Linked DNA regions of Homo sapiens: all the other regions are linked to region 4. Evidence: fine-mapped expression QTL. A gene starts in region 4. Each other region holds a variant in brackets. All regions are shown on one strand. Distances are between the middles of the regions. Region 1 overlaps RASGRP3 (RAS guanyl releasing protein 3). Region 2 has its middle 28 kb from the start of RASGRP3. Region 3 overlaps RASGRP3 (RAS guanyl releasing protein 3). Region 4 holds the start of RASGRP3 (RAS guanyl releasing protein 3).

Evidence for each region. PIP is the estimated chance that this variant, and not a neighbour inherited with it, causes the effect.
Region 1: its variant is fine-mapped to the expression of RASGRP3 in monocytes (TOPMed, PIP above 0.99).
Region 2: its variant is fine-mapped to the expression of RASGRP3 in monocytes after interferon gamma (Fairfax 2014, PIP 0.95).
Region 3: its variant is fine-mapped to the expression of RASGRP3 in whole blood (TOPMed, PIP above 0.99).

Annotation. Positions count from the first base shown.
Region 1 is chr2:33,552,221-33,560,421 of GRCh38, forward strand. RASGRP3 (RAS guanyl releasing protein 3) reads left to right here. Exons shown (of 18, transcript NM_001139488.2): 15 at 3,311-3,347; 16 at 5,991-6,116; 17 at 6,452-6,810. It overlaps RASGRP3-AS1 (RASGRP3 antisense RNA 1), which reads right to left. Exons shown (of 4, transcript NR_146505.1): 4 at 2,825-3,094. Among named protein-coding and RNA genes, the nearest start is that of RASGRP3-AS1, 13 kb to the right of the region's middle. The variant G/C (reference allele first, on the strand shown) is at 3,114.
Region 2 is chr2:33,444,758-33,452,958 of GRCh38, forward strand. It overlaps a transcript of RASGRP3 not described here. Among named protein-coding and RNA genes, the nearest start is that of RASGRP3, 28 kb to the right of the region's middle. The variant A/T (reference allele first, on the strand shown) is at 3,870.
Region 3 is chr2:33,507,997-33,516,197 of GRCh38, forward strand. It overlaps RASGRP3 (RAS guanyl releasing protein 3), which reads left to right. Exons shown (of 18, transcript NM_001139488.2): 2 at 3,714-3,846; 3 at 7,014-7,210. The coding sequence starts at 7,141. Among named protein-coding and RNA genes, the nearest start is that of RASGRP3, 35 kb to the left of the region's middle. The variant G/A (reference allele first, on the strand shown) is at 4,181.
Region 4 is chr2:33,473,046-33,481,246 of GRCh38, forward strand. It overlaps RASGRP3 (RAS guanyl releasing protein 3), which reads left to right and starts at 3,604. Exons shown (of 18, transcript NM_001139488.2): 1 at 3,604-3,662. RefSeq lists enhancers at 2,940-3,259, 6,720-6,889.

The DNA of each region.
Region 1 (8,201 bases), 79 kb after region 4:
GACCTGGAGTCTGGAACCCTGGGTTAAAGTTTTGCCCTTGCTAACTCTATGTCCTTGACCAAGTTATTCACCATCTTTGGGTCTATTTCTATCTGTAAAAGGGAGTTAATACTTACCCACCATGTTGTTGCATGATAAAATACTATTAGACACGTTGCACGTCACATGGCTCGGAGTACACATTTTTTATGTATTCCTTGATACTTTGAGAGTTTAATTGAAATTAACTCATTTAAAATTTTTACAGCTGTTTTTGTTTTTAAAATATATTTAATTTTATTGGTACGATTTGATTTGATCTTTACTGACACTCATGTCAAAAAGCCCATTGGTTTTCAAAGGAATTTATAACTATAGCTCTATAGATGTGTCATTGAAAGGAATTGTGGGAGAATGGTTCCAGTGCCGGAACCATCTGCTTTTAAAATAAATTCCATTTTAAGTTTAAGGAAGACAAACAGACTTGCTCTGCAGAAGATTTACTTTAGAATTAGAATTCCAGAACTGAAAGAGTGTTAGTAATTCCCTTATTTTGTAGATGAAGAAACTGAGGTCTGGAGAAGTTAAGTGACTTCCCCCAAGGTCACACAGATCATTAGCAGCAAAACCATGAGTCACACCCAGGTCTCCTGACTCTCAGTCCAGTGTGCCTTACACCACAATTACTCCAAATATGACAGCAGCCGGTGGTCTCAAATCAAAGGACTGTGGGAAATACTCCTGCATACCCATCCACATGAGTTCATCCTCTACTGTTCTTGGCAGGCACACTGACCCAGTGCCTCTTCCTAGCTACTGTTTGTTCCTGGCTATTAAGTAAGCATTAGCAAACCTACCTCCCCACCCCCACCCCCAGCACCCTTGCTTGACTGTATCTTTTTCAGCAGTTCCTGCAGCAATGCTAATAATGTAACATATCTGGATATTAGGATGTCTCTTCTTAAATCTTATCCTTTCTTGTCCCACCTCAGTGCCTTTGCTCACACAACAGTATGCAGGGGCAATGGCTTCCTGTCTTTCCCTCAAGTGACACATTCTTCTTTCCCTCACTAGCTATGAGACCTTGCCAAGGGACTTTACCTCTCTGTAGGTCAGTCTCCTCATCTGTAAAAATGAGAAAAATATTATTACCTACACCATAAGGACATCATGAGCAATTAAATAAGCTAATATGTATAAAGAGCCTAACTGTGCCTTTCACATAGCAAGAGTTCAAGAAATGTTAACTATCATCATTATTATTGCTATTATCATTACCAAGGGCTCCAGAGAAAGAATTTCCAGGTTGTGGGAGATTGCAAATTATCTAACTTCCTGGATCATCACATTCACCTTTTACAAAAGAGAAGCAAACTAGATTATCATAAAGATCAAGCTGTGATGATCCTGGCCACCACTGCCCTTTTCTGGATCATGCCCCTCTCTCTTCCAGCCATCCTTGCTTCTACTTAGTTGTCAGATAATCCTTCCTGTCCCTAAGACAAAATACTGCTCTGTCCTAGGAGACATTTGCATTTTATTTATTTATTATTATTATTTTTTCTTTGAGATAGAATCTCTCTCTGTCGCCTGCAGTGGCGCGATCTTGGCTCACTGCAACCTCTACCTCCTGGGTTCAAGTGATTCTCCTGCCTCAGTCTCCTGAATAGCTGGGACTATAGGCACACACCACCATGCCCAGCTAATTTTTGTATTTTTAGTAGTGACGGGGTTTCACCATGTTGGCCAGGATGGTCTTGATCTCTTGAGCTCATGATCCGCCCGCCTCGGCCTCCGAAAGTGCTGGGATTACAGGCGTGAGCCACCGCGCCCGGCTGACATTTGCATTTTAATATGTATTCTGAAGGACCAAATAGCTGTTAAGGCTCAAAGGAATCCTTGAGTTTTCTACTTGTGGAAGTTCCTTGTCAAAAAGAAGTAAGGAGCAGTCTTTGTATACTCTTGAGTCACTTCACATTGGCTGTGACTTACTCTTCTGGAAGAGCGGGCCATGCTGCCCACATGTGGGGGCATTGTTCACTTATAATACATTGTGAACATTGTGAACGGCACCCCCATCAGTCCCAGTGGGCCCTGCTTTTTCAACATTATTTTATTAAGTAGATAATAGCCACCTAACCCAAACACAAAGAGGTTAGCAATAGTTCTTCTCCAACTTGAGCTAAGCCCATTTAATTACCCATACTGTATGCCTCTGGTGAATCTGTCACCCCATGCAAGAGGTGTGGGGAGGCACAGAAGGGCATGGCAAGGCCCTCTTCTTTTTTTTTGAGATGGACTCTTGCTCTGTTGCCCAGGCTGGAGTGCAGTGGTGCGGTCTCAGCTCACTGCAAGCTCCGCCTCCTGAGTTCATGCCATTCTCCTGCCTCAGCCTCCCAAGTAGCTGGGACCACAGGCGCCCACCATCATGACCAGCTAATTTTTTTGTATTTTTAGTAGAGACGGGGTTTCACCATATTAGCCAGGATGGTCTCGATCTCCTGACCTCGTGATCTGCTCTTCTCGGCCTCCAAAAGTGCTGGGATTACAGGTGTGAGCCACCGCGCCTGGCCAGGCCCTCTTCTTTATGGTGTTTAGAAGGAGTCTGTCTGGAGAGCGAAGACACCACCACCAGGATGTCCCTGAACCCCCTGGGCAAACGCTCCCTCGTGGAACTGCAGGCCCTCACATCTCCCCTCAGGGATTTGTCACTTCCTACTTGTTAACCACGAGGATGTCACAGACTCCTTGCTTGGCAGAATCTGAGCTTTTTCGACATCTCCTACAACCCTGGCACAGGCCAAACATAGAGCAAATGTGGAGAATGAAGACATGAATAACTAAGATCATTTCCTCTTCTGTATTTTTCCACGGGACAAATACTACTCAGAAAATAGCCTAGCAAAATCCAAATGCTTTCACATGAGGTGCGCTTCTTCCATTGCTTCATTTCCTGTAGTGGGCGCTAAGAGCAGCTAGTGTCATTAAAAAGAGAGAGCCAGGGGCTCCCAAAGACCAAGTGGCCATCTCCTCTGTACATTTTGCTGAGAGCGCATCAGGCCAAAGTCTGGTGCATCAAACTTTAGTAGTTTCCCATCCCGGCTCCCAGTTGGCTCTGAGAAAGAAAAGGGAAA[G/C]GAAACTCATGTTATCACCACAGCTGGAAGGGGCCGGGAGAGGGTTCTTCTATCTGGCAGGAAGGGTGTTAAAAGTGGCTACATCCTGTTTGTGCCTGGCCAGTCCTGAAGCTTCCCAGGACTTCCTTTTCAGTGGCCTTGTTTTCCTTCCAGATCTATCCTCAGATTCCCTGACATTCCTTTGTCTTTTGTTACAGCTCTGGGGCATAATCAAGCAAGGATACAAATGCAAAGGTAAATCAATGTTATTTTGTTACAATTTTTAAAATGTGACATTTTGGGTAAGAATCAAATTTGTCTGGTTAAACTACAAAAGCTCTTGCCATTATTCGGAATTTCAGTCTTTTGGGTCAACGGCAACTGAGAATGATTGCCTCTGAGGAGGAGTTTCTGGAGTTTTGGAGAGCTAAAATTGGAATTTTATAGCTTGTTACAAACCACTCTTATCAACACACATAAATCTAGTTCTTTGGAATCAGCAGCATCCAGTTAAGGTGGGAATTCTGAGTGGGACAAGCCTAGCTAAAATACTGAATATAAGAACTTCTTCCTTCAAAGAAAAACACCTACACACTATTTCTCTAATGCACAGGCACTTCTTCCCACTCACACTTAGCTATTCCTTTCTCTACTAAATCACATAGATGGTGACAAAAAACGAGGAGAAAACTTAAAACGTAATTTTGTCCTTTTCAATGAATGCTTTCCTCTATCTTTCCCATTTAATTAAGTTTATAAACAATTGAATCAAATATATTTGACAAATGCAATATGCATGTATACTAAGCATTTAGGAATGTGTTGCTACTTGTACATATATGATCAAGTATACATTACTGTTGTTTAAGAAGTTGCTGGACACTTTATGTGGACAGTTTATATGGTTCTTCTAATAATCTTTTTTTTTTTTTTTTTTTTTTTTTTTGAGACGGAGTCTCGCTCTGTCGCCCAGGCCGGACTGCGGACTGCAGTGGCGCAATCTCGGCTCACTGCAAGCTCCGCTTCCCGGGTTCACGCCATTCTCCTGCCTCAGCCTCCCGAGTAGCTGGGACTACAGGCGCCCGCCACCGCGCCCGGCTAATTTTTTGTATTTTTAGTAGAGACGGGGTTTCACCTTGTTAGCCAGGATGGTCTCGATCTCCTGACCTCATGATCCACCCGCCTCGGCCTCCCAAAGTGCTGGGATTACAGGCGTGAGCCACCGCGCCCGGCCTCTTCTAATAATCTTATAAAGCTTTTGAAAAAATATAATAAAACTACAAAAAGAAACATCTTAATCACAGAATACCTTCAGATGAATGTTGTTCCCCAGGGATGCCTTTTTTCTCCAGTCGTTTTCCAGTATTTCGTCCTCATTTTGCATGAACAAAAAGCTTCCCAAATCTCAATGGAAGCCACTGTTTAGTGCTCAGAGGGACCTTCCCATTAGTGCTTCTCTATCACTTGCCTTGGTCTAACTTAGATTTTTACTTTCAAGCAGCAAAGATACTGCAAGATCTTATTGCCCAGCAGTGAGTCATTAGTTTTATTCTGGTTTCTATCCTCATACCCTAAAATACACACACACACACACACACACACACACACACACACACGCAATTTTATAAAGATGAAAATCTATTACACCTTTGGATTATCTCTTGTATTTTCTTAATGGCACATAAAGTGAAAAAAAAAATGAATTGAAATAGATTGAATACATCATTAAGACTATTTGAAACAAGGTCACTTAGGGGAAAATGGGTACTGGAAATAGTTAGAAAGGTCCTCCTTGATGGTAGGAGAGAAATGATCATCTCTATTCAATGATTCTCAGTGAAGTGCAGGACCCTCATCATAGGAAATAATTGTGAACCACCATCTGAAGTGGCCACATTTTTCTACCCCAAGTAGTAATTAACATTCTACTGTCTTATCTAAAACATCCTAATGGGCAATTCACAGACTCTGCTGCACGCTGTTTCAAAGCCATAAGCAAATATAGAACATATTTACTGAGCATATGCCCATCTTGTGTTCTGTTGGAAGCAGAAGATATAATCACTGGCCCTGAAAGGTTTTGGAAAATGAAGAAGAGTAAAAAAATCCAGACAAGGCCGGGCACGGTGGCTCACGCCTGTAATCCCAGCACTTTGGGAGGCTGAGGTGGGTGGATCACGAGGTCAGGAGATCGAGACCATCCTGGCTAACATGGTGAAACCCCGTCTCTACTAAAAAATACAAAAAATTAGCCAGGTGTGGTGGCGGGCACCTGTAGTCCCAGCTACTCGGGAGGCTGAGGCAGGAGAATGGTGTGAACCCGGGAGGCGGAGCTTGCAGTGAGCCGAGATCCCGCCACTGCACTCCAGCCTGGGCAATAGAGCGAGACTCCATCTCGAAAAAAAAAAAAAAAATCCAGACAAGTGCTGAGTGGAGGAACACCTCACAGTAAATGATCAGAGGCAGTTGGCCTGGGAGAGACTAGAAGCTGAGGCTTCTTGCCCTAATGCTGGCATAGGCTCTCTTTGTGGGGATTCCGTCTAAGCCTGGGAAAGACTCTCAACCCCATTTGATTTGCATTTAGTTTTGGGCAAAGGCAACTGACCTCTCAGGCTGGACTCTATTTACTCCCTAGGCACAATTGCTCATTAGGTCCTCAATTGCATACAGAACCAAGCTGAGCAAATCTAAGAGAATTTTCGGAACCTCAGGAAGGCAAGTGCAGACCAATGGCCTCTTTCCAGATCCTAGACACACCCCATGGGCCTGAGCTCAACTCTGAAATTCAACACAGAAACTGGGGTGGGGGAGGGGAGGGCTGACAAATCAAGTGCCACCCTGGAAACTGAATCAACATCAGACACACTAATCATCTGCGACACCCTTGGAATTTTTCAGACTGTGGAGCCAATTGTCACAAACAGTGCAAAGACCTCCTGGTTCTGGCCTGCAGGAGATTTGCCCGGGCGCCCTCCTTGAGCAGTGGTCATGGGTCACTGCCTGGAAGCCCCTCGCTGCCCCCAGGTAATGCCCTCTGCTTTCTTTGCTGCCATGGTCTCTTTCTGCTTGCCTCCTCACACTTGGACCTCATTTAGGTTCTGGGTCTAAACCCGGTCAGTCACTCTAAACGCTAAGGCCTTCTTTAGGGTGAGCAGCAGTAGCTAAACCCTTGAATCATCCTTGCTTCTCTCTGCTTTCTAGTCTCAGGAATATGTAACTTGCCTGCGGCTAATTGAGTTCTGTCCCTTGTCGGTTCCTCTAGAATGTTGCATGCCAGACTCGTGCTGTTTGCACTAACCTTGATGCTTTGCTGTCAAGCAGTCAGATGTCAAATAATCACCACCCTTTTTCACTTCCAGCGCAGGATGAGGTGTTTGAGTTCCCTGGAGTCACTGCTGGACACAGGGATTTAGACAGCAGAGCCATCACACTGGTTACAGGCTCTTCTCGCAAGATCTCTGTGAGGCTACAGAGGGCCACCACCAGCCAGGCCACCCAGACTGAACCTGTCTGGTCAGAGGCTGGCTGGGGGGACTCGGGGTCCCACACCTTCCCTAAAATGAAATCCAAGTTCCATGACAAAGCAGCAAAGGACAAAGGCTTTGCCAAATGGGAAAATGAGAAGCCCAGGGTGCATGCTGGTGTGGATGTTGTAGACCGGGGCACGGAGTTTGAACTTGACCAGGATGAAGGAGAAGAGACCAGACAGGATGGTGAGGTAAGTGCTAGGTCAACCCACAAAGAAAACCAGAAGAAGGAGGCTGAAAGTGCTGAGATGAGCGTTACAGAGGGTCTGGGGGGCAGCCTGGTAGTTCTGAAAGCAGAATGGTTGGGAATGAAGACATGTATCACTTTTAGTCTTGCCACTGCCTAGCTATGTGACCCTGGACATATGTTTCTTCTTTATGGATCTCAGTATCATGATTTAAAAAAATTGAACGAGATCAAGTTCTGAAACCTATTGAAGGCTGTCATGTGTGCGTACTGAAATGATGCCCCAGAAACCCATGACTATATATCCAAAATACCAGTACACGATACAGATCAGCTTGGTTTTCCAAGCTAGAACCAGGGCCCAGACTCAAGAAAGGCAGTAGAAGCAAAAGACTTTTAGATAAAGGAGAATTGGAAACTTTTCATTCTGCTCAAAAGAAGCTTTTGACAGCATCATGGAAAAGGGGGTGGTGAGAATCAGAGATACGAGGCCCTTGAGGATCTCTAAACCAGGCTCTGCCTCCGCATGAGCAAAATCATGCAAAGCAAAGTAGGATGCAGATGGAATTTGTTAGAGTATGCTGACACAGAAATTGATTCAAGATGGAGTTAGATAAATTTATTAGTTAACAGTCTATAGTGTATTAAGAGAAAGGATTTGAGAAAATTGGCATGATATTCCTAACATTTAAAGCAATGTCATGGAGGACAGCCATTGCCACCCTGTCGAATTGTTCTCATAAACAGAATATTGGGTTAGGCAGAGATCCTACTGGATCAAGCCAGTGCTCTTTAGTCTTATGGGTGGTCCTCCACATTCCACTCTTCAGGAGACCTAAACACACGTCTCCATACATTTCCCATGATGAGAAAAACTCCAGTGACCTTTAGCCAGAAATTCCCCTAGTTCCTTCCTCACTGAAGGCAGTGCATAAGGAGGCCACCCATTATCTCTGGTCATACAAGGTTTATTGTAAGTTTCTGCTGAAACACTTTTTTTGTTTCTATAACATCCACTTTTAAAAACAGCTTTGAGATGTAATTCATATGCCATGAAACTGACCCATTTAAAAGTATGCAATTTAGTATACTTTCAGTATGCTTTTAGTATACTCACAAAGTTGTGCAACCATCACTACAATCTAATTTTAGAACATTTTCATTATTCCAAAAAGAAATCCTACACCCACGAGCAGTCATTCTCCCCCAACTCACCCCAGCCAACTAATTTATTTTCTGTCTCTATAGATTTGCAATGCCCACTTTATTTTTAACATTTCCCCCACTGATCATCTTGACAACTGTATCAGTCCTATCCCCCTACTTCTTTTACTGGCCTAGCACAGTTCAAGCTGGGAATATAAACGAGAATAAGAGAAAGATCATGATTAGGTG
Region 2 (8,201 bases), 28 kb before region 4:
AACTATGGATTCCTCAGTTGAGAATTAGGGCAATAGAAGTTTTTTTAATAAACATTATCCAAATTTGAAATCTGGATGATATGCTTGTAAAAGACTTTATCATAATGTTTTGAAGTGAATTTTAGGTATAGGAATAGATTCAATTACACAGCCTAAAATCGAGTTCCAAAAACCATTATAGACATTATGCTCCTAATAGTGCCTACAACTTAGTACAAAGAAATAAATCTTTAGCAATGGAAACACACACAAGTGCACATGCACACACGCACATACTTCCAACATTGTGACCACTTGCTGATGTCTTTTCTGCATTTTGCATTGTCTTATTTGAAGGATAGGAAGTATGCTATAATAATCTTCTATAACTACTATGCCTTGGGGACTCTCATGCCAGTCAGCTGGTGTGATAAAGATAGCTTCTGTGTGCTAAATACGGAGATACAAAAATAGAACTGGTGGAAGTGGATAAAATCAGAAGACACTGTAGGTTCTTATGGCCCCACCAATGGCAGAGACCTGGAAACATAGGTCTCTGAAATCCTGGCAATGAGTTGCAGCCAACTGGAATGATCACATTTTTGGTTCTTGTCTTATTCCATGAGGGTTTGGTTATGAAACTAGAGTTTAACCAGTCAGAAAATTCTGAAATCAAAATAAAAGTTAAAGACATATATAAATAATGACCATTCATTGCATGATTTACAAATTGGTAATGGTCCAAAAGTTTGTTTTTAATAATTTTCTTGGCCCTCTGAATTCACTTTACATTTTCCCCATAGAAACAAAGTTATAAATAGTGACTGCATACTGCACCTAAAATGCCACGTATCTACAACGAAATTATTACAATGTATTTATAATATATTATTTATTCTAAACATGTATGCATTTGAAATTATTCAATGAAATCTAACTATTGATGTACTATTTCTACATTAATACATTATATCATATATTAATATGCTAATAATTATATCACATTAATATATTAATAATATGTTAATTAACCAAACAGAAAAAGTATATACTGGATCAACAAAACCACCTTGAATTCAAAGCAACAAACACTAGTAAAGAATCCAGGAAGTGCCAGGTGCTATACTAGAGTCAGGGACAAGCGTAAGAGATAAATCATATTTATCTTGTTTCTTAATATTGGAGGAAAAGCAAATTTACCAACGAAAAATGAGGAAGTAAATGGAATTCTTTTTTTTAAAGGGGACTGCCTTATCTAAGTGACCCTTAGGTAGAGAGACCTTTTTTAGGCTTTTATGTCTAATTTTACTGTTAAACTTTGTGCTTGCCTTTTCCTGAAGGACAAAGTACGACTAGTTCTGCTGTTAATGTGTAGCCATTCTTTTTTGTTGGTTCCCAAATAGGGTAATTTTGTTCGTTTGTTTGTTTGTTTTGTTTTTGAGACGGAGTCTCGCTCTGTCGCCCAGGCTGGAGTGCAGTGGTGCAATCTTTGGCTCACTGCAAGCTCCGCCCCTTGGGTTCACGTTTCTCCTGCCTCAACCTCCCTAGTAGCTGGGACTACAGGCACCCGCCACCACGCCGGGCTAATTTTTTTGTATTTTTAGTGGAGATGGGGTTTCACCATGTTAGCCAGGATGGTCTCGATCTCCTGACCTCATGATCCACCCGCCTCGGCCTCCCAAAGTGCTGGGATTACAGGCGTGAGCCACCCACACCCGGCCCAAGTAGGGCAATTTTTTTTGGAAATTTTTTGGATTTTTTTTTTTTTGGTTCCCAAATAGGGTGAGATTTCTGTGAAGTAACACTTGGCTAAGAAGTAGAAGAGAGGAAAGTGAAGAGAATGGTTAGAATTAAATATGCAGGCACATGAGAATTGTGCATGATTGTCCAGTTCTCCTTGGAGAAAGGGTGAGGAAGACTAGAGACTGAGCCTCAAGAAATGATCCTCAACAGCCTCTAGGGTGGGGAAAAGGAAGGGAGGGAATGTGTGCAATTTCACATTCAAATTGCACATACAAATTTCCGAGTCAGTTAAAGAAAAATCTCTTGGTGAGTGCCATTAACTGTTGGATCCTGCAGAGACTACCATTAAAAAAATATATCAATAGAAAATGAGGAAGGACTGGGCCGGGTGCGGTGGCTCACTCCTGTAATCCCAGCACTTTGGGAGGCCGAGGCGGGTGCATTACGAGGTCAGGAGATGGAAACCATCCTGGCTAACGCGGTGAAACCCCGTCTCTGCTAAAAATACAAAAAATTAGCCAGGTGTTGGTGGCGGGTGCCTGTAGTCACAGCTACTCGGGAGGCTGAGGCAGGAGAATGGCGTGAACCTACACTCCAGCCTGGGTGACAGAGCGAGACTCCGTCTCAAAAAAAAAAAAAAAAAAAGAGGGGGAAGCAGTGACCAAGTCAGGCATGAATGGGCCTTCAGGGAAGGTCAAGAAATCTGGGTTGAGTGGTCCCACTGGTTGATTTCACAAAACAGTGAGAATCAGGGACCTACAAATGAGTTGAGATTATGTATGTAGCCCAAGGAACAGGAGGCTGGGCCAGGGGGACAGACTGTTCTGGAACACTCTCTTATTTCTTCTGCTGGGAACTAGGGCTGTTTCTCTGGTAATGGAGGCCCTCTGACAAAGACAAAACATAGGGTAATTGTGCCACATGCTACTCAAAGAGGTGCCCCAACCTTGGAGTGTGCACATTTTTTTTTTTTTGAGACAGAGTTTCACTTGGTCACCCAGGCTGGAGTGCAGTGGTCCGATCTTGGCTCACTGCAACCTTCGCCTCCTGAATTCAAGTCATTCTCCTGCCTCAGCCTCCTGAGTACCTGTGATTACAGGCGTGCACCACCATGCCTGGCTAATTTTTTGTGTTAGTAGAGACGAGGTTTCACCATATTGGCCTTGAACTCCTGATATCAAGTGATTCGACCGCCTTGGCCTCTCAAAGTCCTGGGATTACAGGCGTGAGCCACCGCACCCGGCCCATGTCTGTGTTTTCTATCTGAAACTGTCTCCTCACCTTCTGGTCAATGAATGCATCCTTCTTCAATGTCTTCTCTCAATTTCTTTTGTTTCTAGGATATTTTCTTTTAAAACATCCATATCTCTTCTTTGCCATGGAAACTACACCCAATCTACCTGAACCTGCGGCACCCCTCTGATGACCCATTTGGATTCTCTGATTTCACTGCCAAGATTCTCAGTGAGTATTCCATCACATACCACCTTTATTTTCTCAAGTCTCTTTCAGATTTTAAACACATAAAATCTGATCACATGTTTTCAACCCCACTGAAACTGTGATGTCAGAAACTTTGTAAATTATGAAGTGAACAACATTTTTGTTCTTCCTCATTTGATGATGAAGCTGTCACCAGTCTTGAGTGAATTTGCCCTCTTCAGAAATGCTATAACATTTATATACTGTAATACTATATAAATACTTTCTTATATATTTAATCCCATGTCTGGTGGTGTTTCTTTAATTTATTCAACTACTATTTGCCTCTGTGGTTAATTTTCCAAGAGTTTCTTCTCTCAACAACCTAATTATAAATTCCTTCATGTCTAGGCCTTATTTTGTGCTTTAAAAAAAACTCTCTGTGGTACACTAATGTTCATAGCAGCATTATTTATAATAGCTGAAAGGCAGACACAACCAGACACAACCCACATGTCTATCAACAGATGAAGAGATAAACAAAATGTGGCATAGACATGCAATGGGAAATTATTCAGCCATAAAAAGGAATGAAGTTCTCATATATGCTAAAATATGAATGTACCTTGAAAACATCATGCTAAGTGAAATAATCCAGACACAAAAGAACAAATATTATATGATTCCACTTATGTGAAATATCTACAATATGCAGATTCATAGAA[A/T]CAGAAAGTAGATTAGAGGTGGCTGGGGGTGGGGGGAAAGGGAGAATAGAGAGTTATTTCTTAATAGTTGTAAAGTTTCTGTTTGGTGTGATAAAAAAGTTTTGCAAATAGTGGTGATGATTGCACAACATTGTGAATGTAATTAATACCACTGAATAGTACACGTAAAAATGGTCAAAATAGCAAATTTATGTTATATATATTTATTACAATTTAAAAATTAACTATATAATATAGCAAAACGCAGTGAATTGTATGGTATGTGAATTATGTTTCAATAAACCTATTTTAAAGAAATCCCTCTGGGAACCAGATATAACCTTACATATAGTAAATGTTTAAGTAATATTTTGTATCATTTGTTGTAATGAGATTCATTAGGACACAAATTTACATGTGGTAGAGATTAGACATGTTTTTCAAATTATGCATACCAGGTATAACATGATTACTCTCTGTTTGGGGCTTTAGGTAGGTTTAGACAAAAGCCAAGTGCTGTGCAAGTGTGATTGAGACCTTAAACAATGTCTTCATCATTTCTACCTCTCCCAGATTACCAGACATAAGATCAGGTGCATGACACATACCAACTTCCTAATCTTAAATTTGGTGAATGAATGAAAGTATTAACAAAGTATGCAGAGTTACCTTGCATATATATGCATATATGTTTTTTCTCAACCAACCTTTCGTCATTGCAATTGAGACATTACTTTTTCAGACATCTACTTTTAAGACATAATACGTTATACTATGTAGATAGCATAGAATATTGTGCAGGAATCTAGAAAAAACCATGTTTGATGACATACAACAGAATATTTCATGACATTGGAATATTTAATAATATTTAGGCCGGGCGCGGTGGCTCACGCCTGTAATCCCAGCACTTTGGGAGGCCGAGGGGGGCAGACCATGAGGTCAGGAGATTGAGACCATTGTGGCCAACATGGTGAAACCTCATCTCTACTAAAAATACAAAAATTAGCTGGGCATGGTAGTGCATGCCTGTAGTCCCACTCCTAGGGAGGCTGAGGCAGGAGAATTGCTTGAACCTGAGAGGCAGAGGTTGCAGTGAGCCGAGATTACACCACTGCACTCCAGCCTGGTGATAGTACGAGACTCCATCTCCAAAAAAAAAAGGAATATTTATTACAGTGAAAATATTTATGATATATAGCAAATACAAAATGCAAACTTTTGTATATTTGACCATTATGCATTTTAGTAAAGATAAGAAAGGTATTTTATTACTTATTTCTGTGTAACAAATCATTCCAAAACTAAGTGCCTTTAAACAACTGTAAGCATTTATTACCTCACATGATTTCTTTGGGCCAGAAATTCAGGAGAAGGTCAGATTAAGGAGTTTCATTTGTGAGGTTGCAGTCAGTTGTCACTTGGGACTAGAGTCTTCGGAAGACTCAATAGGGACTAGAGATTTACTTTTCTTATCGTTATTTCCAGCCCCCAAGCTTTATTAAGATATTGACAAACTAAAATTGTATATATTTATGATGTAAAACATGATGTTTTGATATATGTATACATTACAAAAAGATCAAATCACCTATTTAACATACTTATCACCTCATATACCAATCATTATTTTTGTGGTGAGAACATTTAAGATATATCCTCTTAGCAATTTTCAAGTATACAATACAATATTAACTGTAGTCATTATGCTGTACAACAGAACTTATACATCTTGTCAAACTGAAATTTTGTACCCTTTGATCAAAACCTCCTCATTCTCACCTCTTCCCAGCCCCTTGCAATCCTCATTCTACTCTCTGTTACTGAGTTCAACTTTTTTAGATTTCACAAAAAATGAGATCCTGCAGAACTTGTCTTTCTGTGTCTGGCTTATTTCACTTAGCATAATAGTCTCCAGGTTTATCCATGTTGTTGCAAATTACAGAATTTTCTTATTCTTTAAGGCTAAATAGCACTCCATTGTATATACCGCATTTTCTTTATCCATTCAACTGTCAATGGATGCTTAGGCTGATTCCACATCTTGGCTATTATAAATAATGCCACAATGAACATGGAGTGTAGGTATCTCTTTGACATGCTGATTTCATTTTCTTTGGATAAATACTCAGAAGTGGGATTGCTGAAGTATATGATAGTTCTATTTTAAATGTTTTTTTCTTTTTTCTTTTCTTTCTTTTTCTCTTTCTTTCTTTCTTTTTTTTTTTTTTTTTTTTTTTTTTTTTTTTTGAGACAGAGTCTTGCTCATTCGCCCAGGCTGGAGTGTAGTGGCATGATCTCGGCTCACTGCAAACTCCACCTCCCAGGTTCACAGCATTCTCCTGCCTCAGCCTCCTGAGTAGCTGGGACTACAGGTGCCTGCCACCACGCCTGGCTAATTTTGTTTTTGTATTTTTAGTAGAGACAGGGCTTCACCGTATTAGCCAGGATGGTCTCGATCTCCTGACCAGGATGGTCTCCAACTCCTGACCTCGTGATCTGCCCGCCTCAGCCTCCCAAAGTGCTGGGATTACAGGTGTGAGCCACCGTGCCCAGCTGAGCATTTTTTCATATACCTATTGGCCATTTGTATTTCTTCTTTTGAGAAATACCTCTTCAGGTCCTTTATCCATTTTAAAATTTGAATTATTTGTTTTATTGCTATTGAGTTGCTTTGAGTTCCTTACATATTTTGGATATTGGTCCCTTATCAGATATAATACATAGTTTTCAAATATTTTCTACCATCCCACAGGCTGTCTCTACAGTCTGTTGATTATTTGCTGTGCAGAAGCATTTTTGTCTGATGCAATCTCAACTCTCTGTGTTTACTTTTGTTGCCTGTGCTTTTGGAGTCATATCTAAGAAATCATTGCCGAGACCAATGACAAGAAGATATTCCCCTATCTTTTCTTGTAGTAGTTTTATAGTTTTCAGGTGTTAAGTTTAAGTTTTTAATCTATTTTGAGTTTAAGTTTTAATCTATTTTGAGTTCATTTTTGTATGTAACGTAAGGGTTCGATTTCATTTACTGCTGCTTTCAAAGTTTTTTCTTTGTCTTTTGAGAATTTGATTGTAATGTGTCTTGGTGAAGATCTCTGTATTTAATCTGCTTGGGGCTATTTGGGCTTCATAGATCTGGATGCTCATTTGCCTCTCCAGATTTGGGAAGTTTCTTATCATTATTTCTTTACCTAAGCATTCTGCTCTTTTTTCTTTCTTTGCTACTTTTGTGAATCCCCTAATGTATATATTGGATTGCTTGATATTGTTTCATAAATCCTATAGGCTTTTTTCATTCTTACTTCTTCTTTGTTGTTGTTGTTGTTTCTCTGGCTGAATATTTCAAATGATCTGTCTTTGAGCTCACTGATTCTTTTTTCTGCTTGATTGAGGCTACTGTTGAAGCTCTCTATGGAATTTTCAGTTCCATCACTATGTTCTTTAGATCCAGAATTTCTGCCTTGTTCTTTTTTATGGTTTCTATACCCTCATCGAATCCCCTATTTTGCTTTCATATTGTTTTCATGATTTGATTTAGTTATCTGTATTCTCTTATAGCTCACTGAGCTCTGTTAAGATGATTATTTTGAATTCTCTGACAGGCAGTTCATAGATCTCCATTTATTTAGGGTCAGTTACTTAATTTTGTTGTTTGGTGGTGGTGTTTCCCTTATTATTCACTATCTTTGTGGCTATATATTGATGTCTATGCATATGAAGAAGTAAGCACCTGTTCTACCTTTTACATATTGGCTTTGGAAAGCTCTCACCAGTCTATCTAGAGATTCTGGGTGGGTTGTTTGGTGGAATCTGAGGGCAGACTTGCTCCTGTATTCTCAGGCAAGTTGCCTTGGTGCCTGAGTCAGCAGGCAGGAAGGCCTGGAGCTTGCATCTCCTGGGGTGGGCCTCGATTCTGGGTTCATGGGAGTGAATCTGGACCCTGTGTTTGCAGGGGCTGGCCTGAAGTCTAGGTTCATGGGGGCCATCCTGTCCATGAGATGGACCTTGAGCCTGAGTTCATAGAGGCCCACTTTGTTCTAGGATGGGCCTGGAGCCTGAGTCCACACAAGGGCTAGCCTGGTTACTGGGACTTGCCTAAAGCCTGTGTCTGCAGGGGTTGGCCTAGAGGTTGAGCTGCTGTGGCAGACATGCCTCTGGGTGTAGAGCCTAGTGCTGTTGTATTGGTGTGGTGCTTGAATGGAGCTGCAGCCTGATGCTATAGAGGCCTGCTTGCAGCCTGGGGCCATAGGGGCTGGCCCAGCATTAGGGTAGCCCTGGATGCCCTTATCCACAGGTGCTAGCCTAGAGCCTGGGATCATGAGGGCTGCTCTGGCACTGGATTTCACTGAA
Region 3 (8,201 bases), 35 kb after region 4:
GTGGCAGAATTTCTTTTGAAAATAGATTCAGAAAGATTTACTGATCCATTGTCTATGGGGAATGATCAGAATCAAGGATAATTCCCAGATTTCTAGCTAGATATTTGGTTGGCTGATGGTGCCATTCCCCTGCGATTGAGAAATTGAGAGTGGAGGGGAGGAGAAACAAGTTTGTGGGAGGAAAATGATGAGTTCACTTTGGCAGTATTGATTTAGAGATGCCTGAGATTCCAAGGAGAAATTTTGTTTTAAATGATTTCCCTTGATCATATCAAGGGGAAATTTTGAGTTAACTTCTAGATATCCATTACGGACTTCTGAGTTAAGACCTGGGCATCTTTAAGTGCTAAGAATTAGCAGGAAAAAAAATATTGGAGGAAGAGGCAGAAGAGTGAGAAGTTAATTCACGTAACGTGGTCCCTGGGAGGACAAGAGTAAGGGATCCATGCACAGGTGGAGGGATTGACCTTGGATAAAGAAGAGGGCCACTTCTTTCAATGCAATAGCAGGAGAGACCCCCCAAAAAGGGCATCCATGTGGGTAAATTTCTCATTTTTATGGAAGGAAATCAAGGAAGTTTCTGTCTGGCAACTTCCATTTACTCTAAAAAGGAGACACGGTCATCTGCCAGAAGGTATGATGGATACCATTCTGACGTTTATCGAGAGGAGAAAATGTACAAAAGCCATTGTGAAAAGAGAAGAAAGGAACCAGAATTATCAGGATTATTTCTGTCAAGAGTAGAAGGCTGATGTTTTTCTTCTCCTGGAGGTATTTGTTTGTTTTTTATTGTTGTTGTTTTTGAGAGGAAGTTTAGTGTTCCTTGCTTTTTGGGCTATTGTATCATCTACCCATGTCATGTTTCTAAAATTACTTCAGATAACTTCTGGAACAATGTTTGTGGCAAATCTCCCCTGCATTCAAGAAGCAATTATGAGTTTCTATTGTTATGGTCTAGTTACACTTTCCATAAGTCTGAGCCTCAGAACTAAAGCAAGGCTGGCATTTGTTAGGTGGTGTCCTCACAAGGGCACAGATCCTAGCTCCCATTTCACCTAGGTTTGCTTGATATGGTGAAGAGGACGTTAAGATACCATTGGAAATGAAATAATAAGAAAATCAGGCAGGGTGTGGTGGCTCATGCGTGTAATCCCAGCACTTGGGGAGGCTGAGGTGGGTGGATCACTTGACGTCAGGAGTTCGAGACCAGCCTGGCCGACATGGGGAAATGTCCGTTTCTACTAAAAATACAAAAATTAGCCAGGTGTGGTGGCACATGCTTGTAATCACAGCTACTTGGGAGGCTGAGGTGGGAGAATCACTTGAGCCTGGGAGGCGGAGGTTGCAGTGAGCTGAGATCATGCCACTGCACTCCAGCCTGGGCAACAGAGCAAGACCATCTCAAAAAAAAAAAATCCAGATATGATCATGCCATTCTCCTTTCAAACAATGGCTTCCCGTTGCCCTTTGGATAAAGGATATACTCCTTACTAAAGCTTACAATACTGTCATGAGCTACTTCCACTGACGTTTTAGTCTCATCTCTTGCCATAACACTTTAGTCATTGTAAATGTCTTTTCGATTTCTCATAATTGAAAAGACTTCATCTTCATTACTAAGCTAAAACTCCTCAGGCTTCTAGACTAAATTAGTGCCCCTCCCTACCTGCTCTGTGCTCCATAAGATATTTTATTGTCATTGTTCCTTTAATTCTTTGCTAGACTATAGAGGCAAGGATTGTATCTGTCTTGCTTATCCATTTATCCTTCACTTCCCCGACACCAACCCCTTCTACCAGCCACTCTAGTATTCTGTTCGGTGTCTGGTGTCTAGTAGATCCTCAGTAAGTATTTATCAAATAAATTAATTGTCTTTCAGAGTTTTTATTATTTCATTTACTAACCTCAATCTTAATTCTCCTATGGAGTATCAGGTAATATAATCACAGCACTTTAAAAAAAAATCTCATGTCTGTGGTGATAAAGAGAAATTAAGTTTGCATATTTCCAGAACAATGAATGCTGACATCTTTGGCATTAATCTTTAAGACTTCAAGGTTTGTAACAATTAACACTTGTATTCATGAAGGATTAGTCATTTAGAGAAACCTCTTTGTCTCCATATGGAGGTCATATGAATGTAAAGATATTTATGTAGTCATTTATGCATAAAGATAATAACTGCCATTGGCAGGGAAGGATCTTCAAGAAATTCTTTTATCTTGGAATAGAGACAATGTGATAGACAAGACAATTGTTGAAAGTTCTAATATGGCCAACATCATTTCAAAACGATTTGTTGAATACTTACTAGTTACAATATTTCACCTTATAAATCCTACAATTCTAGAGCCAAGAGAAAGCTTCCCTGTCATTTTGGCATACTTCCTAGATACCGTCTGGGAATTTAGTCTACAACATCTCTGACAGTCATGACCTAACTTTGGCTTGAGAACCTTTGAGAATTGGAGTCCCTTGCTGGTGAGGCTGCTTGGCCCCCTAATAGGTGCTCCAGTGTCATCGTATTTTTTCTTCGAATATCTTTTCTCTTCTCTAAATGAACACCTCTCTCCCTTTCGCTTCTACAAATTGGTCCTCTACTTCAGGCCTCAACTTAAAAGACTTTTAATATGGGAGGGGAAGAAGTAGTGCAGGTAAAAGGAGACCCTTTCCCTGAGCACTCAGCGTTCTGCAGGCTCCGTGATGGATTCACTTTATGTGACCTCACTAACTCCTTAAACAGTCTAGTAAAGTACGCAGCATTATGGAATTTTACTCAGAGATAAGTCAGACTTTCCCCATTCAGTTACCTAATGTTGAAACCCGATTTTTTTTAATGGAGAGGTTCTGAGTCAAGAGCCTGGTATGCTCATTTATATCTGTTAATGAACAGTTACATGGAATTGGCTACCTTTTATTATTTCTAAAATTGGGAGCACTGTTCTTAGTGTCCTAGGCAACCTCAGAAGGATGTTTTTTGACAATAGAGGCTTCACAAGTCATGTTAATGAACGTCCTTTTGCTACAAGAACATATTGTAGCCTTTGAAATCACACCCAACAAAACTCTATTGCCCTTTAAAAATAACACTTTTCTTTTAGAAATAATTCAAACCCTGGGAGAAATTTGGCTTATTGTGTCCCTTTCAGACTTGGGAGAAAATGTATATGCTGGAGAACAATAATTTTCATGGCCGCCAGAGAGTACCTATCAACACCACAGCAAGTCCTAAACAAACAGCAAGTTCTTAAGGCCCCATTGGGAGACTAAACAACCTGCTCTAAAATAACATTGACATTCATGTTGAGACAATCAGTAGTGATTTAGGGTCAGAGTTTAGTGATCATGACCACAGACTGTTTTAAGGATTTACTAACATTTCAAAGTCAATGTTTGGAAATTCTTAATGAGTAATCCACTGATATATTTGCATGAAACAGTAGTTTATACTATGTGTATAGAACTTGGTTTTGTTGCATATGTGGGTTTTTAATAGGCTGCAAAAAGCTTACTTGATTTAAAAAAAAATTGTCTTACCAAATAACTATTTTGAATATTTGCCCTTGTTAATTGATGTTGTGGGTGAAGTTTAGACAAAATCTCAAATACCACCTATAACTCAAAGTTTTTGAAAATGCTTTAACACAATGTGGATTCTTTGGGGTTATCATGATCTAATTCTATATGGGGGTTTCTTTCTGTTCTTTTGTCAGGTTCTCCAAAATACTTATCATTCAGGTTGAATAAACCAGTTCTACAGACTGCTTCTTCCATGCATTTCCCAATGATGCTAGCTGCCCTTAAAATTCTTTCAGATTTGGAACTGTATCTGTATGGAAACAACAGGTAAGTATTTCTTTAAATTGTCATAAATTATGTAAGAATTCTAATAAAAATTAAATATGCCTAGAGAAACTAAAAGAAACGTGCTATGATGTTAATAGGAGTTATCTTTGTATGATGAGATTAGGGATAACTTTTTCCTTAATGTCCTGTTTTAAATAATAAGTGTATATTGCTTTTGTGATAAAGAAGCCTTATTCTGAAAAAGGTAGTTGTAGACACAATAATGTCCACACATAGGAAATGAGATCTCAGGTAAATGTGCAGGTGACAGAAGGTGGAGCAGAGACTCAGACACATCTACTGATTGCAGAAACAGATTGTAACCTGATAGCCC[G/A]GCCCACCTGGCCCGTCGTGTGCCAGTTTCTTTGCAGATCAGAAATATAACCCTAAACGTGGTGATGAGTCTTTGGTTCCAGGTTATCTCTAACCCCTTATGGGGATGTGAACACCTTCCCCAGACAGCTCAGCTGAGTAATTTTGGTTTTGAATTGAGAAACCAGTTTAGTCTAGGCCTATTTGTTCTAAGTAATATGTCTACTCTTCCGTGAGTAACAGGCTAAAAAAAAATGTCTGTATACACATGAAGGTAATCAAACTTGTTAATTGTTCAATCTTGACTTTTAAGGGTACTGATAGAGTTTACATTAGAGGAATCAGAGAAGTTCTGCCCCAGAATGTCTTGGAAAAGGCAAGTTCTAATGATGAATATAGGCAGATTCTATTAAGTTTAGAAAACTGGCAGAAATTTTTGTCCCAGTGATGTTTACTTAAAGCTGATTTAGTAAACAAACTTCAAAAAGTCTCTTAAAAATGTATGGTATCTATACACACTCACATAAATATACTCATATTCAATGACAAACCTCTGACAAGTTTCATGATATTCATTTCCTCACCCATTAATCCACTCGTTTATTAATTTAGTGAATAATTTTTGAGTATCTTTTATGTGAGAAGCAAAACCTTAGGTGTTAAGGTGTATACCAGAGAACAAACACAAAAATCCCTACAATCTTGGAGCTTATGTTTATGACACTATAGAGATTTAAAAACAAATAAACAAGTAAAATATATAGTTTGTCAGATGGTGTTAAGTGTAATGAAGAAAAATAAATCCAGGAAAGGCAGTAGGACATGCCAAGTGAGAGGTGGGTGAGAGCTGAGAGGTGCGTTGTTTTAAATAGGTCAGGAAAGGCCTTACAGATAAGGTAACTTTGTTAAAAGATATAAAAAAGTTAGTTCCAGATGACTTTAATAATCTGCTTTCACAAATCATTTCAGCAGCAGAATTGGGAAAGCGTTTGATCCAGCGTTTCTGCTGTTTTTATTGAACACTTGAAATAACCCTTTATTTTATGTTCTAAGAGTGGTACCTTCAGCACAAGAATCTGGTTCTTTCACAGAATTAATAGAGGGCAAACATTTTTTCCCCAGAGTTATGTGCCTGGTGAACAGACTCATTCCAATGTCACTCCAGTGGTCTCACTGAACTAATACAACCATACATATGGACATTAGGTATTTTTTCCTATTCATTCACATGTTTGTTTTCTGAAGTTGACTATGAGCCTGTTGAAGGTAAGAATGGGACAATGATTTGTTCATCTTGGCAGCCTCAATGCCTAACCAAGTTCCTGGCATAGGTCAGGTGCTCAATGATTGCCAGTTGAATAAATAAAGTTCAAGAGTAAAATAGACATTGACTTTAAACAGCTCACGAGATGAATCCTCAATGGCTGCATTTACCTACTAAAATGTCTAAAGTGGATAAATGTCTTACAACATGACAGCCTCCCTCCTGCTCCAAGTCCTATGGGGACCTGGCATCAAGGACCTGCTCTGTAAAATAAAGTGATAATGTCTATCCAGCAGCGATGCTTTTGAGTATAAGCAACTATAAGAGGCTATTGCCAATCACGTTTTCCCCATGACAGTGCTGGCAAGTGGGATAGCTCTCATCCTCACATTTTCCTTCTGTCTCTGTAACAGATAATCTGTCTTACATCTTCTTTCTGAGATGATGTGGAGGAGTGATACCCTTTACACTAGATTAGCAGGCAAAACTATGATGGTTTGTGATATCCATGCTTGTAGAAGTAATAAGAAGAAAGGGAACACAGAAGCTTTATTTTATAGTGGAGTCCTGACTCTAGGCCTTAATAATTGCATGGTTTTGGGTAAGTTGCTAAATCACTGTGAATCCCATCACCTCATCTGTAAACTGGGAATAATAATTACTACCTTACAGCATTGTTGTGAAGGTCAAGTTCAATAATATATGCAAAGCATTCGGAATGGTGCATAGTACATAATGTGGGTGTTCAATAAATTAACAGTAGTATTTTTACCACTGCAGAGAATAATCTTACTCTCAGGCAAGTAGAATCTGTTACAGTTGTTGAATATTTATGTAATCATTGAGGATGTTTATAAATATATTTGCTTCTAAAAATTTTTTCCTTACATATTCTTTTATTAATATTAAACCAAGTAACATTTATAATATTCTTGAATATCTTATCACTTAAGAACATGAGGAAAGGTGGCCGGGCACAGTGGCTCACACCTGTAGTCCTAGCACTTTGAAAGGCTGAGGTAGGTAGATTGCTTGAACTCAGGAGTTTGAGACCAGCCTGGGCAACATGGTAAAACCCCATCTCTACAAAAAAAAAAAAAAAAAAAAAACCCAAAAAATAGCCAGGAGTGGTGGTGTGTGTCTGTAGTCCCAGCTACTTGGGGGTCAGAAGTGGGAGAATTGCTTGAACCCGGGAGGTCGAGGCTGCTGTGAGCCGAGATCGCACTACTGCACTCCTGTACTCCAGCCTGGGTGACAAAGTGAGACTCTGTCTCAAAAACAAGAACAAAAACAATCAAAAAAAAGGATATAAGGAAAGTATAAAACATTGCATTAAAAAATTTCAGCAGTGAAGTGGGATGGTATATAACAGGGAACATTTCCATGGTCTCCAAGCAGCATCCATCCCCGAGAACAGCTTAGCAGGTATTTTGGCATCATAAAAGGTTGATGTAATCTCAGTCACTATGATACTTTTCTTGTACAAAGATACAGTCTATGGAAGTCATTATCTTTTCAGGTAGGAAAGTGATGCTCTAGTGGGGTCTGAACTCTAGTCTAATAACTTTCTCTCTTTTTTCTTTTTTTTTAGAGTTTTCTTGAAGTACAACTAAGGACAGGTCACCACTAGGCACTAACATCGCTGACTTGCATGATTATGGAGATGGTCTATCTGATGCTGAAAATGTCTCTAGTTTTTTGACAACGGCTAAATAACCATGGGATCAAGTGGCCTTGGGAAAGCAGCAACATTAGATGAACTGCTGTGCACTTGCATTGAGATGTTTGGTACGAGCCTTTTCTCCTTTCATCTCTTTTGGATCTCTCGATGCTCTCACTTTCCTCTATTCAGAGGCAAGTTGCTTGTAGAACAGAGTTCAGTCTCTGTACCTTGGTATTTAAGGCCTTTCGGATGGACCCGGGTCTGTCTCTCCAGTTTCACTGCCCTCCATATTTCTTTCCCTTTACTGCCCACAGCTCATACCCCAGTCAAACTGTCTACTTAATGTTTCTGGAACATTCTCTGCACCTTTCTACCACCATCCATTGGTCATATTCCCTTCACTGAAATTCTGCTTCAGGGCCCTCTCAGATGTTCATAGTACCATTCCTAGTCTTCTTGGTCAGGAATGCTGCTTGCCTCTTCCCCCATCCCATATCCCATTGTAATTCCTTATAGCACATGGCATATGCCTCTGTAATTGTTTCTTGGTCTTTTGACTCAGTCTTTTGACTCAGACGAATGTGAGTAGCACAATTGACTACATTCTACATTCATACACGTCATATCTGCTACTAGATTATACACTTTTCAGCTGTATGCTCCTTGTGTTGTTGTTTTCATATCCACCTCAGCATTTTGGGTTATCCGTTGCACAAAGAAAGTCAACCCACATGGGAGTAGTTATTTATTAAATTGATTACTATAGAAACCAGAGTTAAACCAGTGCAGGGTTGCCAGATAAAATACAGGATGACCAGTTACATTTGAATTTCTGACAATCATTTTTAGTGTTAGTATGACCTAAATAATGCCTGGGACATACTTACAATACAGAAATTTATCATTGTTTCTCTTAAATTCAAATTTAACTGATTGTCCTGAATTTTACTAAAACTGTCAACTGTAGACCAGAGGAAGGGTAAGACCCACCCACCTTTACTTGCAAGGAAATACTAGCCGAAGTAGGAGGTAAAAGATCACTGGTCGGCCAGGCGCAGTGGCTCACGCCTGTAATCCCAGCACTTTGGGAGGCTGAGGTGGGCGGATCATGAGGTC
Region 4 (8,201 bases):
GCAGGAGTTAGGGCAGTAATTAAAAGAGCAAGTCTGGCTGGGGGCAGTGGCTCACGCCTGTAATCCCAGCACTTTGGGAGGCCAAGGTGGGCAGATCATGAGGTCAGGAGATGGAGACCATCCTGGCTAACATGGTGAAACCCCATGTTACTACTAAAAATACATGTCTCTACTAAAAATACAAAAAATTAGCTGGGCGTGGTGGCGGGTGCCTATAGTCCCAGCTACTCAGGAGGCTGAGGCAGGAGAATGGCTTGAACCTGGGAGACGGAGCTTGCAGTGAGCCGAGATCGCGCCACCACACTCCAGCCTGGGCAACACAGTGAGACTCCGTCTCAAAAAAAAAAGCAAAAAATCAGAAAGACTGTTGTTAGGATATAAAGACAATGTGAGAACGTGAGCATGTTTAGCTAATGAGCGCACGCTGAGAGCAAGAGAAGGCGTGGTTGTTGTCGAGAGTCCTAAGCAGGTGGGAGACACAGGGTGAGACACAAAGCCGAGGTAGGAGGTGGCCTCTTGACAGGAAGAGGGCACCTCTTCTTGAGTCGAAGACAATGCTTGGAACTGGTAGGGAGTGTGGGCAGAAAGATGGGATCTCCCCCATTTCTTTGCAAGGCTGTGTTATTGTAGAACCTTTAGTCACACTCCTGGACTCTGACTGAAAGGGTCCTGGGTCTTGGCCTCTGTGTTAACAGTTTGCTTCATAGGGAGGATTGAGGATCCATCCCTTCCTCTCCTGGCTATAGAACTAGAAAAGAACCTCTACACCAGTGGTCCCTAATGTATTTGGCACCAGGGACCAGTTTCATGGAAGACAATTTTTCCATGGACCGGGAATGAGGGGATGGAGATGATTTCAGGATGAAACTGTTCCACCTCAGATCATCAGGCATTAGACTCTCATAAGGAGCATGCAGTGTAGATCCCTCGCGTGCACAGTTCACAATAGTGTTCATGCTCCTATGGGAATCTAATGCCACAGCTGATCTGACAGGAGGCAGAGCTCAGATGGTCATGCTCCCTTGACTGCTGCTCACCTCCTGCTGTGCAGCCTGGCCTCTAACAGACCATGGACAGGTACCTGTCCATGGCATGGGGGCTGGGGACTCCTGCTTTACACTTATGATGTAGTTTGGATGTTGTGCCCACCCAAATCTCATGTTGAGATGTAATTTCCAGTGTTGGAGGTGGAGCCTGGTGGGAAGTGATTGGATCTTAGGGGCAGATTTCTCATTAATGGTTTGGTACCATCCTGTTAGTGCTGTTCTCATGATAGTGAGTGAGTTCTTTTATTTATTTGTTTATTTTAAGACAGAGTCTCACTCTGTTGCCCAGGCTGGAGTGCAGTGCAGTGGTGCGGTCTTGATCTTGGCTCACTGCAACCTCTGCCTCCCAGGTTCAAGCACACCACCACGCCCGGCTAATTTTTGTATTTTTAGTAGAGACAGGGTTTTGCCATGTTGGCCAGGCTGGTCTCAAACTCCTGACCTCAGGTGATTCACCCTCCTCAGCCTCCCAAAGTGCTGGGATTATAGGCATGAGCCACAACACCCAGCTGATAGTGAGTTCTGGCAAGCGCTGGTCATTTAGAAGTGCCCCCTGTCTGTCTTGCTGCTGCTCTGGCCATGTGACTCATCTGCTCCCACTTTGCCTTCCACCATGATTGTAAGTTTCACGAGGCCTCCCCAGAAGCCGAACAGATGCCAGTATCATGCTTCCTCCATAGCCTGCAGAACCATGAACCAATTAAACCTCTTTTCTTTATAAATTACCCAGTCTCAAGTATTTATAGCAATGCAAGAATGGACTAATACAACTTAACTTTCCTGAGGCTGTTGTCGCTGTTGGGCATTGAAGAGTTTCTAGAAGTCCCTGTTTCTTTATGTGGCATGCAATGGATCATCAGAATAATTAACCCAGTCAATGGTAAACAAAGTGATGGATGGATGCCATCAGATCACAAAAGTTTCTATTACTGTAAATACAAGGGGGTAAGTAAATCAAAATAATGTTTCAAATCCTCAGTAGGCCTCTTTTTCTGTTTCTAATTGAAGATTGTCACATCAACACATAAACAAAAATGCCTGTGAGGGAAATGTGTATTTTATGCATTGCATTTTTATATCTGAAGTTTATTTCTATTACTAACTTGAAATGCTGAGGAAGGGATTTGTTTTGGTGCTTACAAAATTCTCCCATTTGCTCTTCGGACTCTCACAAGTTGACAACAAATTACTGCCCTGATAGTATGGTGAGACTGAGGGTTTTTTGTCTTTTTCTCTTATTCTAGAAAACACTGTATCCTCTATATGGAGGGAAATTTCTGGTTTGATTAACACTGTAAATAATTATGAGACAAAGCCTAAATATAAAAGATTACTCACACAGGCTCTTACACTGAGTAAGATATTATGTGTTAAAAATCAGGGTTAATAGTTTAACAGGCACATTATGGTTCAGAAATCCCCTGGGGGACTTCAACCATCTTTTCTGGATGTTCACTTTGCCAAATAGGCTGCCTCTATGTCATATCTCTACCTGAAGGGCAGGCTCAGACACTGATTCGGGGAAGTGTCACCCTTACTATACCAAGAAGTCAGACATCCAAGGTCAGACACTACGTAAAGTCAGATACTTCAAGGGCTTTCCTTGGAAGGGAGGATGAAAAGGGAAGGGTGGGAACATCAGCTCAGGTGAGACATATGAATTCAACAAAACATCAGGGATGGTTTGCCACGTTTGCGAGCAGCACAGAAAACGGCAGTTTGCTCCAAGTTCCCAGCACACCAAAGGGGGCAGTAGTGCGTCTGTAAAGCGCGTTGTCAACTTGGTGATAATTTCTGTTTGCATTCACACTCGCCGGCTGATAATCTCAGCTGCTCGATGCAATTCAACAGATAACAATGCGGAAGTTTGGTCTAAAGCTACCTGAAATCACTTCCAAGAGCTCTTCAGATAAAGCTGCCTTTGATAGTCTTCATTAACCCCTCCCATATTTGCCCCTCAGCGTCCCTTGGCTTAGCAGCCCCGGCCTTTGAAGTCCAACCTAAGCATTCTTAGATGGTGAGTGAGGGTCTGCCTTCCCCAGCACCAGCCACCTAGTCAGGCTTGTGGCTCGTCTAACAAACTGGAGCCTGAGATTCTGAGAAAACGAAACCAAACAGTTGTACTCCGGGGTTAACACAGAGCAACTTCCACCTGCTGTGCGAGTTGGTGATCCTCTCTCTTGCCGTTCGAGAGCCCCAGTGAAACTTGAGTGAGATGAGAGAGCATGGAGCCTGCCAGTCTCCCCCTCTGCGCACACACACACGCAAACACATTTAACTTTCCACTTGCAGTGACCTGCCCTTCAGTGTGACTTATCAGCTGTTTGGCTTTTGTCACTAAAGGAAAACAAATTGTGGAATATCCCGCTCTGCATGCTCATGAGATGGCTGAGCCAACTCAGGGGTTATGAGGTGGTTTGCGAGTGAGGAGAAGAATGATCTTCAGTTTCTGACCTCCTGGCACGGTGGCGGGCGGTATTTATCAGGAGGTACATGTGACTGGTTAAGACTCAGAGCCCCAGCTTGAAGGAAACAGCTGCTCTCGGCGTGCTCCGGCACTTGGCAGCTGGACAGGCAGAGTGCTGATGTGAAAAATACCACGACAAAACCACCCTAGTAAGTAACTGGAGAACTTTCCTCTCTCTCTCTCTCTTTCATTCCCTCTCCGTGTGTGTGTGTGTGTGTGTGTGTGTGTGTGTGTGTGTTGCAAGCCACCAACAACTTTTGATTTTGATTTTGGTTTCCCTCTGGCACGATAGAAGGAGATATTTTATTTGTACCTGTTAACAGCCATTGGTGTTTTCACAGCCCTTTTTTAGAACCTGTTATTTTCGGCAACGTGTCTTGTAACTTTGAGGATGAATGGGGCATATGGCTTCATTCCTGTCTAGGAAACAGAAAGTTTGTTTCCCAGTGTTCAAGATTTTTCTAGTCCATGGTGTTTAGGTTCAAAGTCAAGTTCAGGTTATGAAGTAGAGACTTCATTGAAGTGAGTTGATGACTAGATTTGATTTTAATCTGTTTCTACCACTGAAACCTGAAAACGTAGTTGTTTAAAGTAACTTGTGAATTTATTGTATGGCTGATTTGATTTTTCCTATTCAATTTTTGAGAATATCTCATTTAACTGTGTAGAACTGTCTGCAATATAGAAGACTGACAAAATAATATTTAGATTCACATTAGAAATCATATTTAGATTTCTTGCATGGTTTCCAACTAATTGAAAGCTGTATTTTATAGCGACTTTTTTTCCCCCCAACAAGCTAATTCACCTTCATTACTTTAAAATGTTCAGTTGCCCCTGGTCTTCCTTCACCTTCATTACTTTAAAATGTTCGGTTGCCGCTGGTCTTCCTTATTTTAGTGTTTTCGTGATACTCAGGCTGTTTTTTCCTTGTTTATGACCTGACTGGGAAAGTGCTGCCTGCAGCTGATGATTAACTCTGGGAGGCCTGGCATCCAAATTACGGAGAGAACCGGCTCCTTCTCAGGTTCATTCAGCAGTAATGGTGCTTGCGCTTGGGCGAGCAGCAAAGCAGGCACCATGCTGGAACTGAGCTGTTGTTCGGTGACTTTTGTCCTTCCTTGGTAGTCACCAGACAGAATGCTTCAGAGGAAAGGCAAAAGGGGAAAAGAGAGAGGGCAGAGCTCTAAACTGATGACGTAAAGCTCTGAAAGTGACAGGTCTTTGAATCAGAGGCTGCAGGGAGATAACCAAACAGGTTCCTGTTTCTGGAGATCGCGTGGATCTTGAGGAGGGTGGGCAGAGAGGGGCTGTTTTTATTTGAAGTCTCACCAAATAGTTGTTTTGCTTGTGATAAGCCTAGGACAACCTGGAGTGCGCTTGTTTCCTCGTGTGACAAATGGATTCTCATACAGGCTCAAGCTATACGGTTTTCTTTCGCCCTCTGCCCCCTGCCATGAGGGAACACTGTTCTCTCCCCACCCTTACCATCCTTTGTTGTTTGTGGAGAATGGATTAAAAATGACCCAGGGCACGGCACTTCTGCGATCGAGTTTCCCTCAGCACAGTGGGTCTTGAGTACCGCACCAACCAATGTTCTCTGATGGAAGCAGTTTCGGATGCCCTGTCTAAACAAATGGCTAGTCTGACATTGAGAAGTTCTCCACCTTCTTTTCCTTCAAATGTAGAAGAATCCACAAAATGTAGAGTGGCCAATGAGGAAAAATAGTCCCAACTTCTCTGTTCCTCGGTATGGCATTTGTGTGAGGTCCTTGGGTCAGCCCGCGGCCATGTGGTCTGTGACTTCCCTGTCTGACTGCTGGGGGAGGGGGTTCCTCCTGAGTCATTCTTTAGGGAGTTTGTTCCTGGTATAGTTTCAGATTTTCCACAGGTTGATAGTGGAAGAGAACCCTCTGGTGAAATTGTGTCTCCGGAATCATCGAGCCTCCCATAATAAAATGGAATGTCTAAATGGGAGCAGTTGAATTATCCAACTGCTGTATTTTTGAGAGCCAACAGGCTCCTTTGAAAAACCCATGCCTTTTCAAAATATTAATAGCAAAATAATAAAAAATAATGATTTTACTTGCAGATAGTACATCCATTGACTCAAAGACTTTTTGACCTGGATAGGAATGATAGAATGTGCGATTTAACTCTTTCGTATCAAAGATGAGGAAACTGTAGCAAATTTATCGGAGTTACGGTGCAGAGCCAGAAGAGAGAGCTCAAGGCTTCCATCATAATTTCAACGCTAATAACAATCCCTTACTTTTATTGTGCACTTACTCTGCCAAATGATGCGCTAAACAAGTGTATTTATTTTCATAGTCTCCTCACAATAACTCTATGTGTTACATATTATTATTCCAGTTCTATAGATAGGAAACTGAGGTTCTTGACCATACGTAACACAGACAGGAGGGACACCCTTAGTTACTTGACCATATGTAACACAGACAGGAGGGACACCTGGATCTGACTGTAGAACCTGTATACATTAAAAAATAAAAGTGGAATCCCACACATTTAAATGTAAAAACTCACAACATGCAAATGAGAGTATTTCCAGCACAATATGATTACACACACAATGTGTGTTATGCCCTTTTCGAGCTCTCCATGACAGGAAGGGCTAGGTTTCCCCCTGTGACAGTCCAAGCCCAAGCTCTCTCTATAGGATCGCTGGCTGGTGGCATGTTTTTCTCTTTGAAAATAGTTCAGTGACGGTCTTGATGTTGGTAAGAACAGCAACCGGGAACTTTGTTATTAACCTCCAGCACACGGCTCCCATGCCCCTTCTGGCCTTTCCCTCCAGTTTTCCTGTCACTCCTTTCCTTTGGAGGACAGCCACTCCACCCATGCCCCACCCCAAATAGCTGGCTTAGTGTTGATAAAGCTATTATCAGACCCATCCCCTTTGCTCAGCCTGGAAGGTTGGTTGTCCGAGTAGGTTGTTGATGAATAGAAACCATGCACTCTGCCACTCTGCGCTGTTTTTTTGAGCTGTGGGTGTAAGGGGTGGGTCACGGGGCAGGGGACTAGCTGGCAGTGGTGAGGGAGGAGAGGTATGCTTTTCTTCACTGCCTGCACCTGCCATTTACCCTGAGTCCTACTTCTCCACACACCAGTTGCATATCTAAAGCTCTGACTGTCTCACGGGTGGGCCATAAACCTGTGGATTTTCTGGGTCATCAGACTTGCAGAGCCCTTAAGAAACCTGCCTCCTGAATCCTTTTAAAAATGTCATTTGGCTGTCCACATTCCTCCACTTTAGGTTAAGTGTCAAAATTAGGGTTGGAGATAATGGGAAAGAGCACCAGGTAGTATGTAATCAACAGGGAACCTTTTATTAATCAGGAGGAAAATCAAGCAAGTATGCCATGTGTGGATGTTTCTGAGGAAGTTATCAGTGTTTCTGCAAGGTCGTTCTGGCAAGATTACACATTTTGAAGATCAAGCTATTTATAGCATGAAAGAGGAATTTTTTTTTTTTTTTTTTTTGAGACAGTCTCGCTCTGTCGCCCAGGCTGGAGTGCAGTGGTGAGATCTCGGCTCACTGCAAGCTCCGCCTCCAGGATTCACACCATTCTCCTGCCTCAGCCTCCTGAGTAGCTGGGACTACAGGCGCCCGCCACCATGCCCGGCTAATTTTTTTGTATTTTTAGTAGAGACGGGGTTTCACTGTGTTAGCCAGGATGCTCTCGATCTCCTGACCTGGTGATCCACCCGCCTCGGCCTCCCAAAGTGCTGGGATTACAGGCGTGAGCCACTGCGCCCAGCCCGCATGAAAGAAGAATTTTTAATCTTTAATTCCACCTGCCTGCTGCCTCTAAAACTAAGCCCAACTCAGTAGTAGTCAGTGATGTGGTTTGCTAGACCAAAACCACTGGGAATTGCCTCCAATCCTTGCTAGGAATTGCTCACTTCTGTAGAAATTGGCTTTGTACAGGGGGTGTTATATGGGTACACGTGAAGTGGACTCAGAATCACGACAGAGTCCACAAGTCATACTCTGGAGCTGATTTGAAAGAAAATAAAATGCTTGATTCGTTTTGGGGTCCTTTTACAATAAGGAAACACATTCTGGGATACAATGCCTATTTTGTTTCTTTGTTTTTGCCCAATTGTGTGTTTCAAAGACATCTGCTTCCAAAAAGTTAACTTTCCTGGATCCTCCTTTCCCTTGGTATTGATTGCTCACTTATAGTCCCTGGAGTTAACAGCTCCTGTGTCATGTTTCCACTGCTCTATGGGATTTGAAGTCTTTGGATTTTTTTGCTGTTTCAAGTGATTATTATAGCTTCAGAGTCTGTGGTGTGCAGAGTCGCTGTGCTTTGATCTTTGAGCTCATCTTTGGTATTGAGAAGTCGAACCCCTGCATTTATATATGCCGGCATAAGGCACTTTCTTGTACCTTGCCATAATCCCATGAAAGAGGGAGGGTATCATCACCATTGTTTTCAAAGAGGAAATAGAGGACGAGAGAAAATGAGTGACTTGTCTATGGTCATGGGAAAAGTAACTGTCAGAGCTCAACTATATCTCTTGTCTACTGACTCCAAGTGCCAGGCTTTTTCTGTTGGTTATGCTATCTTTCTTTTGTTTTGTTTTTGTTTTTCAGATGGAGTTTCACTCTGTCGCCCAGGCTGGAGTGCAGTGGCACGATCTCGGCTCACTGCAAGCTC